3 linked regions of the Homo sapiens genome follow. The protein of the gene in region 1 purifies or fractionates together with the protein of each later gene. This does not show direct contact. Each region holds a gene or a part of one and is shown in the gene's direction. Other genes may lie near its edges.

The links.
Region 2: the proteins of AKAP7 (region 1) and SEC63 purify together in Homo sapiens (affinity purification with mass spectrometry; one large-scale study listed by BioGRID and IntAct). This does not show direct contact.
Region 3: the proteins of AKAP7 (region 1) and URM1 purify together in Homo sapiens (affinity purification with mass spectrometry; one large-scale study listed by BioGRID and IntAct). This does not show direct contact.

The regions. Positions count from the first base shown.
Region 1 is NC_000006.12:131,141,836-131,145,486, forward strand, and holds part of AKAP7 (A-kinase anchoring protein 7), read left to right. Parts: intron 1-3,449; coding exon 3,450-3,581; intron 3,582-3,651. UniProt on the Homo sapiens protein: Probably targets cAMP-dependent protein kinase (PKA) to the cellular membrane or cytoskeletal structures.
Region 2 is NC_000006.12:107,902,558-107,906,208, reverse strand, and holds part of SEC63 (translocation protein SEC63 homolog), read left to right. Parts: intron 1-1,487; coding exon 1,488-1,580; intron 1,581-3,210; coding exon 3,211-3,365; intron 3,366-3,651. UniProt on the Homo sapiens protein: Mediates cotranslational and post-translational transport of certain precursor polypeptides across endoplasmic reticulum (ER). Proposed to play an auxiliary role in recognition of precursors with short and apolar signal peptides.
Region 3 is NC_000009.12:128,384,799-128,388,449, forward strand, and holds part of URM1 (ubiquitin-related modifier 1), read left to right. Parts: intron 1-3,017; coding exon 3,018-3,099; coding exon of another isoform or gene 3,100-3,103; exon of another isoform or gene 3,104-3,651. UniProt on the Homo sapiens protein: Acts as a sulfur carrier required for 2-thiolation of mcm(5)S(2)U at tRNA wobble positions of cytosolic tRNA(Lys), tRNA(Glu) and tRNA(Gln). Serves as sulfur donor in tRNA 2-thiolation reaction by being thiocarboxylated (-COSH) at its C-terminus by MOCS3.

The DNA.
Region 1 (3,651 bases):
GGAAGTTTGAACTTAGAAGTGATGACTTAGAGTATCTGATAGAAGAAATTTCTTTCTTTCTTTCTTTTTTTTTTTTTTTTTTTGCAACAGGGTCTCACTCTGTCACCCAGGGTGGAGTGCAGTGGGAAGAAATTTTTGAGCAGCAAAGCATTCAAGAAGTGGCATGGCAGCTTCTGATGACCTACAATCAGATATGGAAGCAAAGGAATGACTTAAAGTTGCTTTCCTTATAATTAAAAGGGAAGCAGAGCACAAAAATTTGGAAAATTTGCAGCTTAGGCTTGTGGTAAAGAAGCAAAAAGCATTTTCAGGAGAGGAATTGAAGTGGGCTGTGAAGGAACCACTTGCTAGAGAGATTAGCATGACTAAAATGGAGGCAATTCCTAATAGCCAAGACAATGGGAAAAAGGCCTTGAAGGGATTTCAGAAATCTCCAGGGCAGCTTCTCCGATCACAGACCTGGAGGCCTAGAATGGTTTTAGGGGACAAGCCCAGGGGCATGCTGCCATGTGCAGCCTGGGGACACTGCTCCCCACATCTCAGTTTCTCCACCTCCAGCTGTGGCTCAAAAGGCCCCAGCGACAGCTCTGGTCACTTTGGAGAGCACAAGCCACTGTAAGCCTTGGGGGCTTCCATGTGATGTTAAGCCTGCAGGTGCACAGAATAAATGCAAGAGTGAAGGAGGCATGGCAGCTTCCACCTAGATTTCAGATGATGTACCAGAAAGCCTGGGTGCTCAGGCAGAAGCCTGCTGCAGCAGTGGAGCCCTCACAGAGAAACTCTCCTAGGGCAATGCTGGGGGGAAATGTGGGATTGGAGCCCCCACCCAGAGTCTCCACCAGGGCACTGCCTAGTGGAGCTGTGGGAAGGGGGCTGCCACCTTCCAGACCCAAGAATGATACAGCCACTGGCAGCTTACACCCTGAGCTTGGAAAAGCTGCAGACATTCAATTCCATCCTGTGAGAGCAGCCACAGGGGCTTCACCTTGCAAATCCATAGGGACAGAACTGCCTAAGGCTTTGGGAGCCCATGTCTTGCTCCAGTGTGCCCTGGATGTGGGACATGGAGTTGAAGGAGAGCTTTGGAGCTTTAAGGTTTATTGTCTCCCCTGCTAGGTTTTGGACTTATGTGGAGCCTGTTGCCCCTTTCTTTTGGATTTCTCTCTTTTGGAATGGGAGTGTTTACACAATACCTGTACCACCTTTGTATCTTGGAGCTGAATAACTTCTTTTTGATTTTACAGGCTCATAGGTGGAAGAAACTTACCTTGAGTCTCAAATGAGACTTTGGACTTTTGAGTTAATGCTGGAACGAGTTGACCTTGGGGGACTATTGGGAAGAGATGATTATATTTTGCAGTGAGATTTAGGTGGCCAGGGGCAGAATGATAATAGTTTTTATGTTTGTCTCCTCCAAATCCCGTGTTGAGATGTAATCCCCAATGTTGGAGATAGGGCTTGGTGGGAGGTGTTTGGGTCATGGGGGCAGATCTCTCATGAATGCCTTCGTGCCCTCCCTGCAGTAATGAGTTCATGTGAGATCTGGTTGCTTAAAAGAGGCTGGCATCTCTGCCTCTCTGTCTTGCTGTTTTTCTTGACGTGTGACATGTTGGCTTCCCTTTGCCTTGCACCATGATTTTAAGCTTCTTGAGGCTCTCACCAAAGCAGATGCTGGCACTGTGCTTTGTGTGCAGCCTGCAGAACTGGGAGCCAAATAAACCTCTTTTGTTTGGAAATTACCCAGCCTCAGGTATTCCTTTATAGCAATGCGAATGGACTAATACAACAGGGGTGTGTGTGTGTGAACAATAGTAGAGATTAATCAAATTGCAGTAAAAATGTGTGTTTTTTGGCTTGTATGTTAACTGTGGCCTATCATCATAGCCATGTTGTAGCCATATTCTTTTTTTTTTTTTATTTTTTATTTTTTATTTTTTATTTTTTTATTGATCATTCTTGGGTGTTTCTCGCAGAGGGGGATTTGGCAGGGTCATAGGACAATAGTGGAGGGAAGGTCAGCAGATAAACAAGTGAACAAAGGTCTCTGGTTTTCCTAGGCAGAGGACCCTGCGGCCTTCCGAAGTGTTTGTGTCCCTGGGTACTTAAGATTAGGGAGTGGTGATGACTCTTAACGAGCATGCTGCCTTCAAGCATCTGTTTAACAAAGCACATCTTGCACCGCCCTTAATCCATTTAACCCTGAGTGGACACAGCACATGTTTCAGAGAGCACAGGGTTGGGGATAAGGTCACAGATCAACAGGATCCCAAGGCAGAAGAATTTTTCTTAGTACAGAACAAAATGAAAAGTCTCCCATGTCTACTTCTATCCACACAGACCCGGCAACCATCCGATTTCTCAATTTTTTCCCCACCCTTCCCGCCTTTCTATTCCACAAAACCGCCATTGTCATCATGGCCCATCCCCAATGAGCCGCTGGGCACACCTCCCAGACGGGGTCGTGGCGGGGCAGAGGGGCTCCTCACTTCCCAGTGTAGCCATATTCTTAATGGACTATGTTTTACAGGTATTGTATCTGAAAATAGAGTATTACAAGAGAATGAATTAAAGGACTTCTTAAACATCTTGAGTGGTAAATTAGTCTTTAGTAAATATGTAGAGTAAAAATTATATTAGTATTCCAGGATTCTGTTCAATCTTATTAGTTCGGACAGCATTTGTGTCTGTCAATAAAGGCATGGGTTATAATGGCACTGGGGAGACCACCATCTGATAAATTTAGCAATTAACTTTATCAATTTAAACATACACCTTCTTTCTCTTACCTCCACCCAAGGTATATGATTGTTCTACCCATAGCAAGAAAACAAAAAAAGACCAAATAGGAAATATGGCTTTAAAGTTAGTATATCACCATGGGAGAGGAGTTAGGGAAACTGTAAGATCATTTGCTTTTTAATAATTGAATTTTCAGAAAAGCATATTTAGAACCATGTATTTTTAACTAAATATCCAGTGTTAAATATAATGATGGAGAGAAACAACTTAAAAGTCTTTATTGAAGAAAAAATTATAGGCCAGAACTTGTACAAATAAGAACACATAAGTGATATTGCTAAAAATAAGAATGAGAATGACTGACAAACCTTGCTGGTTGTTTTAAAAGGTACGTGAAAAAACGTAGTTTTAGAATTAAAATATAGCTGTAAAAGATCTTGAGGATTATTGATTGACTCAGTTTTCATCTAATCATACATTGAATACTGTGTTTTAGAAAATGATTAAAGCTTTATAAGTGTACAAAAATATAGAGTGTGGTATAAATGTTTATATAAATAGCTTTATGATATATTTGAACACAAGTAGTACATTTCTTAACAGATGTTAATTTATATTGAAATCAGTGAGCTGAGTTATTTTCATTTAGGATATGTTTAAATAATGACAAGTTAAATAATCCTTTTTTTTCTGTTTGTGATATGTTAAAGGAGGAATTAATTCCAATGAGTGTGAAAATGTATCAAGAAAAAAGAAAATGTCAGAGGAATTTGAAGCCAATACTATGGATTCTCTGGTAGACATGCCATTTGCTACTGTAGATATTCAGGATGACTGTGGAAGTAAGTACTTTATTAAGTAAACGCGTATTTAGAAGCAATGAGTAGTAAATTTAGTTATATATATATTTTT
Region 2 (3,651 bases), about 23 Mb from region 1:
GGCAGAGCAAGTGTCTTCACATGGCCAGAGCAGGAGGAAGAGAGAGATGGGGGAGATGCCACACGTTTTTAAACAACCAGGTCTTGTGAGAAGTGTATCTCGAGAACAGCACCAAAGGGAGAACTCCACCCCCCTGATCCAATCACCTTCCACCAGGCCCCACCTCCAGCATTGGGGATTACCATTCAACATGAGATTTGGGTGGGGACACAGACCCAAACCATAGCATGGTGGTGCGGTGTGTTTTGTTGCTGTTCTTTTTTGGCCAAATAATTGCTCAAGGACTTTTTAAAAAAGAAATGTATATGCTACATAATTACTTCACAAATGGTTTGAAGATCTAAGTAAGTCAGACGTTTTGGCAAGTGTTAAAATTTAGTGTTTCAAGGTGAGAGAATGCTCTGTATAAGAAATGTTTAGTTAATTGCAGATCATACAAAAGTTCCTAATAATTTTTTTAAAGGACTTTGTAAGTTTTTGGAGGGAGCAAAATGGATTTCACAACAACCAACACCTCTCACCTCCCCATCTACAAGCTTCCTCCGACAGTGGTTACCAATAATGTCTGTTTTATAGTTATTTAAAGCTTCATAAGTACTTGAAGCCATGTATTCTGCTTAAAAGAAAAGTAGTTGATGGAGGCAACAGTGTTTCCAGGGATGTCATTAATTATCTCTTTTTCACCGACATTATTTCAGTTAAAGTTTTAAAAGACAGTTACTACCTCTAGGAAATAAATGTTCTTTTTGAATGATATCCTACCATCCCCCACCTCCTTTAAGGCAGTAATGCAGTTAAATGCTTCCGAAAACAAGGCCATGTGACGCTTAGTAATTGGTGATAGGACAGGATGCTTATGGTGGAATGAAGGAGCACTATTTAGGCAATATCATTGGAGTTGCTTTGAAATACTCAATTAACTAGTAATTCTGTTGCTAATGTTCTGTACAGATACATAAGCATCTCCATTTTTACTTACCTGTAAGAAGCAGGAAACAAATCATTGTTGAGTACCAAATCCATAGGTTAATGTGGTCTTAATAGTTAACTATTATATGCAGTATAAATGAAAGAGTCTTTCTCTTTCTGTAAGTTGCCCTCTTCTTCTCTTCTACGTCTCTTATCTCTCCCCCTGTATTTAGCTGACATATTTATTTTGACATATTTAGTTGATCTGCCTGCCTCAGCCTCCCAAAGTGCTGGGATTATAGGCGTGAGCCACCATGCCCAGCTGGGAGTTGGTTTATTAAGCCTAACATTATGATATTAAAAATTTGTCTTTGAAACGTCTAATCTGAGCTAGGGTTTTATGGCTGATTTTTGACATAGTGATACTGAGGAGAAACTCTTCCATTCAATCTGTAAAATTCTGAGATCATGTGAAATATTTGTGGCATAACTTTAATATTAGTTTTGGGCCACAGTGATAAAGATGCTTTAACTGTAAAATTAAAATGATCTGTTTCAGGTTTTTTATTGTTTTGCAGATCAGCAATTCATGCTAAAAAAGTGTCCTGCCCTACTTCAAGAAATGGTTAATGTAATCTGCCAACTAATAGTAATGGCCCGGAACCGTGAAGGTGAGGAGGAAATATAGTTAATTATGTTATACTTTTTCTTGCAAGCATATGCAGATTGTACTTCATATTTTAGGATTTATGGGTACTCAGACTTCTGTCGGCCAGTTCAGTGAGCTTCTTCAATTTTACTCATGTCTTTTCATATTTCTTTCCTATATTTTCTATTATTTAAAGTCTATATCACAGCTCACTGGGTTTTTTTTGTTCTTTTTTTTTTTTGAGATGGAGTCTTGCTTTGTCGCCCAGGCTGGAGTGCAGTGACAAAATCTTGGCTCTCTGCAACCTCTGCCTCCTGGGTTCAAGCGATTCTCCTGCCTCAGCCTCCTGAGCAGCTGGGATTACAGGCGCGTACCACCACACCTGGCTAATTTTTGTATTTTTGGTAGAGACAGGGTTTTACCATGTTGGCCAGGATGGTCTCCATCTCCTGACCTCGTGATCCACCTGCCTCAGCCTCCCAAAGCCCTGGTCACTGTGTTTTTGATTTTAATTCTTGTTTTTTTTTTTTTTGGAGACAGAGTCTCACTCTGTCGCCTAGGCTGGAGTGCAGTGGCGCGATCTTGGCTCACTGCAACCTCCGCCTCCCAGGGTCAAGTGATTCTCCTGCCTCAGCCTCCTGAGTAGCTGGCATTACAGGCGCATGCCACCACGCCCGGCTAATTTTTGTATTTTTAGTAGAGACGGGGTTTCATCAGGTTGGTCAGGCTGGTCTCAAACTCCTGACCTTGTGATCCACCTGCCTCAGCCTCCCAAAGTGCTGTGATTACAGGCATGATAATTTAATTATTTTATTGTTCAATTGTTTGCAAAGATTTAAAATTTCTCTTTCTTTGAATAATTTTTGAGTTAGGTCATTTTTTCTAACAGTGAATTTGAAATCTTTAACTGATATAAAAGTGATTCATATGTCATGTAATTTTTATTAATTAATTATAGACAGCATCTACCAGGGCTGGAGTCCAGTAGGGTAATCATAGCTCACTGCAGCCTCAAACTCCTGGGCTCAAGCAGTCCTTCTACCTTAGCTCTCCGAGTAGCTGGAACTACAGGTGCATACCACAGCACGGAGCTAACTTTACATTTTGTGTAGAGGTGGGATCTCACTTTGTCGCCCAGACTGGTCTGGTTTCCAACTCCTGGCTTTAAGCAATCCTCCCACTTCAGCTTCCCAAAGCCCTGGGATTACAGTCATGAGCCACATGCCTACAGGCACCTAGCCATTTTTTTTTTTTTGGTATGGAAGGAAAAGAATGAGGGAATTTCTGGTCAGTAATGGAAAGGAATGCCCTTAAAAAAGGATAGTGGTTATGGTTTGTTGTTACGGGTGATGTTGGTTCTTGTCATGGTGTCATATGTTGGTGATACTGATAATGTCTGATAATTTACTATTATTTGAGGTGAGGCAAATAATTTTTCTTTTAAATCAATGGTTGTTGCTGGAAAATGTTCATTAGATCGAGTTTGTATATTTTTAGTGTCTTCTCTGGTAACTTTTAAAGGAAAATCTTACTATGATCCTCAAATTTGAGGTGTTATGGATTTAGTGTGAATTTTGTTTTTGTGATGAATTGTATACTCCTGAACATGTAAAAAGTCCAGCCCTGTTTCTTTTTTTCCTGTTCTTTCTAAGAAAGGGAGTTTCGTGCTCCAACTTTGGCATCCCTAGAAAACTGCATGAAGCTTTCTCAGATGGCCGTTCAGGGACTTCAGCAATTTAAGTCTCCCCTTCTGCAGCTCCCTCATATTGAAGAGGACAATCTTAGACGGGTTTCTAATCATAAGAAGGTAATTCTTTGCTACTTTAAAGTCAGTTTTCAGCAGTTTGTCCTGTCACTTAAAGGTAACATGAATAAAAGTTTTCTGGAAATGGTTACTATGCATTTTTTAGATTTAGAATGTCTTAAATACTCTAAAACTTTCTCTCAGGTGGTTCTGTTAACATTTTCTTGACTAGGTAGCTGTGTTTTATAGTATTTTACTACTGTAAGTAGTTTTATTATTTTGGGGGTTGTTGCATTTAAAAAGTCAACAGTTAGTTCCTTATATTATGTTACCAAAAATAAATGTACTG
Region 3 (3,651 bases), on another chromosome or scaffold:
GCTTCCTATTACCTAAGGTAATAGAACTAGTAAGTGATGGAGTCCAGCTCAAAACCAGGCCTGTCTGACTCCAGGGTCCATACTCTTAGTCTCTTTCTTCCTCCCTCCTTCCCTCCCTACCTCCCCAGTTGTCCACTCAAGTAATGGTAATGGTAGTGCCATACATTTGAGCTGGATCGTGATTCAAGTGTTGAGTCAGAGACACATGGAAGCACAGGCCTGGGCAGTGGGGCCTGGTTCCCAGGAAGCACATACCTGGGAGATACCGCTGAGGTTCACTGGGAGGGAGAGGCCCCTACGGGAGCAGGCCCGTTCTCAAGGCCTGGCCCCATCTCCTGCTGAGCTTCTTACCTTCTCTGTTCTGCTGCCTTGAACCTGCCCATTCCATCCTGCCCCAGCCTTCCCATGTGTTATCCTTCTGTCCAGAATGCTCCCCACCCCACTCATCCTTCAGACCCGAGCTTCACTGTTTAACACCCTCAGTCAGGCCTCTCCTGATCCCAGATGAAGGAGATAGCATTTGTCACAACTAATTAAGTATGGTATGTCTCCCCTGCTGACCTCTAGCTCCCTGAGGGTAGGTAGCTCTGTTTCCCTCTTGCCCACTACCATCTCCCTAGCATCTTGCACATAGTAGCTGCTCAATAAATATTTTTCTCCTGCATGATCACACGGGATCCCAGGAGGGAGACCGCCCCTAGTAGGAGAGGGAAGACAAGAGGACACAGAGTGGGAAGGTGAAAGTGAGAGTCTCCAGCCCCTATCTATCACAGAGCCATCCATCCCCAAGCCACCAGCCCCTGACTCTGCTTAACCCTTCCTCCTCCCCTGGGCGCCTTTGGAAGCCGACCATCTGGCTTGGAGGCTATTTGCATATTGTCTGTGCCTCAGCAAGCCTAGCAAGATGTCCCTGGGGGTGTGTTTCAGGCCAGGCCGAGTGGCCCTTGCATCCTGCGAAGGGAGCCATGAGTTCCCCCTCTCCCCACCCCCAAATCCAGGCATGGGGGAACAATACGAGTGGCGATGCGGTAGCCTCACCATGGTAACAGGCTATCAAAAATGTGGGCAGGCCTGGGTGGGGGGCGGGCAGAAGAGGGAGGGAGTGACCTCAGCAAATAGGAGCATCATGATAAATGAGCCCGCACTGGGCAGCAGACTCATCCCCCAGCTTGTCCCTCTGGGACTCCATGCTGGTGCCATCGTTTGGATGACTCCACCATGACCACTAGCCCTTCCCCCACCCCCAGGCCTATCCAGAGTGGAGCAGAAGCACCTTCCCTTTGGAGGGAGTCAGGGCTGTCCCCTAATTGAGTCCTGGTTCCATGCAGGCCAGGCACTGCCCAGACCTTCTCGCCGCCTCCACACACACAGGCACACCCCCGCCCGCTAGGGCTGGCTGATGGATGTGTCAGACCCCGGTGGCTCTATCGAGCAGCCACAAGATGTATGGGTTGGCGGCCCACCAGACAGTACCAAGATGGAGGCCAAGGGGATTCAGAGCCAAGGGGAAACCTCTGAAACCCAGACCTCAGGGAGGAACCCAGCCAGGAGTCCAAGTGAGCTGCAGCTAGTTGGAGGCAGCATTTTCCCCATCCCATGCCTGCTCCAGGGACCGTGAAGACTCTGATCTGCTTTGTTTAAAAGGAGACATTAAAATGGAAAGGCGGCAGTCTCAGTCCATGGACACTTTGCCCGTGGCCCTGTGCTTTGCTGGCGTACGATCCAGGCAAGTTGGCACCAAGCAAAGTGGACCATCCAGGCTGCAGGCCTGTCAGAGCGAGGGGGCACGCGTGCCAGCCAGCGTGCCTTAACTCCCTGCCCAAGGCTGGGGCCGTGTGTGCGTGCCACACTGTGGGCCCAGACAGGGCAGAGCAAAGTCTCCCTGAGTCCTAGCCACCTTTCCCTTGCGTACACTCTGGACTCCAGGCAGGAAAATCAAGGCCTCACCTGGGACTTCTCCAGCTTAGCCCTGAGCTTTGTCTCAGGCATTAGTCCAGGACAGCAGACCCCTCTGGACGCTGACTCGGGATGGGGTGCTTAACCCCAACCTGTCTGCTGGCTTCCCAGAGGCGAGTTGTCTCCCTGGGACCTTTATCCTCAAGTCGTCTAAGAGAATGAGAAGGAACTCCTCAGCCTCAGGAGAATGGCCCTGTTTCGGGGGCGGACAGTTGAGGACCATAGGCTTCGAGGTGTTTATAGAGCCACATTTCTGTGTGCTGTGGCCCGATACTGCTGCCCCTAGGAAAGGACAGGTGACCCTGAAGACAGGTGGCTCTGAGCCTCCACATGACATACAAGGAGGCTGGTGGCTCCCCCAGAACCACAAGGAGGCAGATCTCAGTGTTAGCTGAGCTGGAGAGGCCCTGTCACCCGAACCTCTGGCCACCGCTGGCGCGGAGGGCTCTGGAAGCACAGGGTGGTGGCAGGGGAGTGGAGCAGGGATTTGTCAGCATCCCTAGCTGGTGAATGATCCTTCTCTCCCTCTGCCAGAGGAAATTAACTGATGTTATCAGCTCAGCAATTGTTTTTTTCCCCTCACAAAGGGAAATATATGCAGACCCCTCCAAGAGCAAAGCCGAATCCTCCCCATCTGCGACTGGCTGGAGAGATAAAGGTGGAGGGGGCTCTTCAAGGTCCTCTCAGAAGTCCAGCCATGGCAGTTGGAGACTGGCTTCCAGGACTTGTGGGTAGGGGCCTGTCTCCTAACCCTTTAGATGCGACAGTCCTCCCGCCGTCTGCCTTGAATCCCCCCACTATAGGTAAATCCCATTGCCTCTTCTCCAGGACTTCAGCAGTGCCAGGTGCAGCTTTCTCTGAAGATCCACCTGGCAAGTCACTGGCCTGTCCTAACCTGTTTCCTCACCTTTGGAATCTACAAGTTCATGGGCTATCACAGCCTGGTCTAAAAGAAGCCCTCTAAACACCGTGTGTATTTCCTTGTGGGCCAGGCAAGGCTCTGGGGGTGGGCAGGTGCTATTTGGGTTTGACAAGAGTTTGTTCTGTGCATTCCTTTCCAGGGGACATCCGGAACCTGCTCATCTGGATCAAGAAGAATTTGCTAAAAGAGCGGCCAGAGTTGTTCATCCAGGGAGACAGCGTGTGAGTCCCACTCCTCCCTTCCCTGAAGCAGGTGGAGGGAGGGACGGATATTTGAGCCCCCACCCTCGGGTTCAGTCCTGGCCTTCTCTGAATCCGGTTCTCCCCTTCCTCCTCCCTAACTCTTCCAGCTCTGAGATCTGTTTTCAGTTTTCTTGTTACTAAACCGAACTCTTGAGGATTTTTTAAATCCCAGATGAAAGGAGCCTGGTGAATTTCTCAGAAAACTTGGATTCTGCCCTCTGGTTGCCACAGACTTGCTGTGGGACCTTAGGCGACTTACTTCGCTTCTCTGGGCCTCAGTTACTCTCTACACAGAAAGTGCTGAGGAAAAAACGTAGCTAGTACAACTGAAGAGCTAAATATTCTGTTTTATTTCATTGTAATTTAAATAGCCACATGCAGCTAGTAGATTACCATACAGTGCAGCACGGGTCTAGAATTCCAAGGAGTCATTGACTCTGTGCGTGCACACACCCATGCACATGCACACACACTCACTGGGGACACCCCATAGAAGCCCAGTGCAGTCTCCTTGGAAAGGACCAGGTTCCA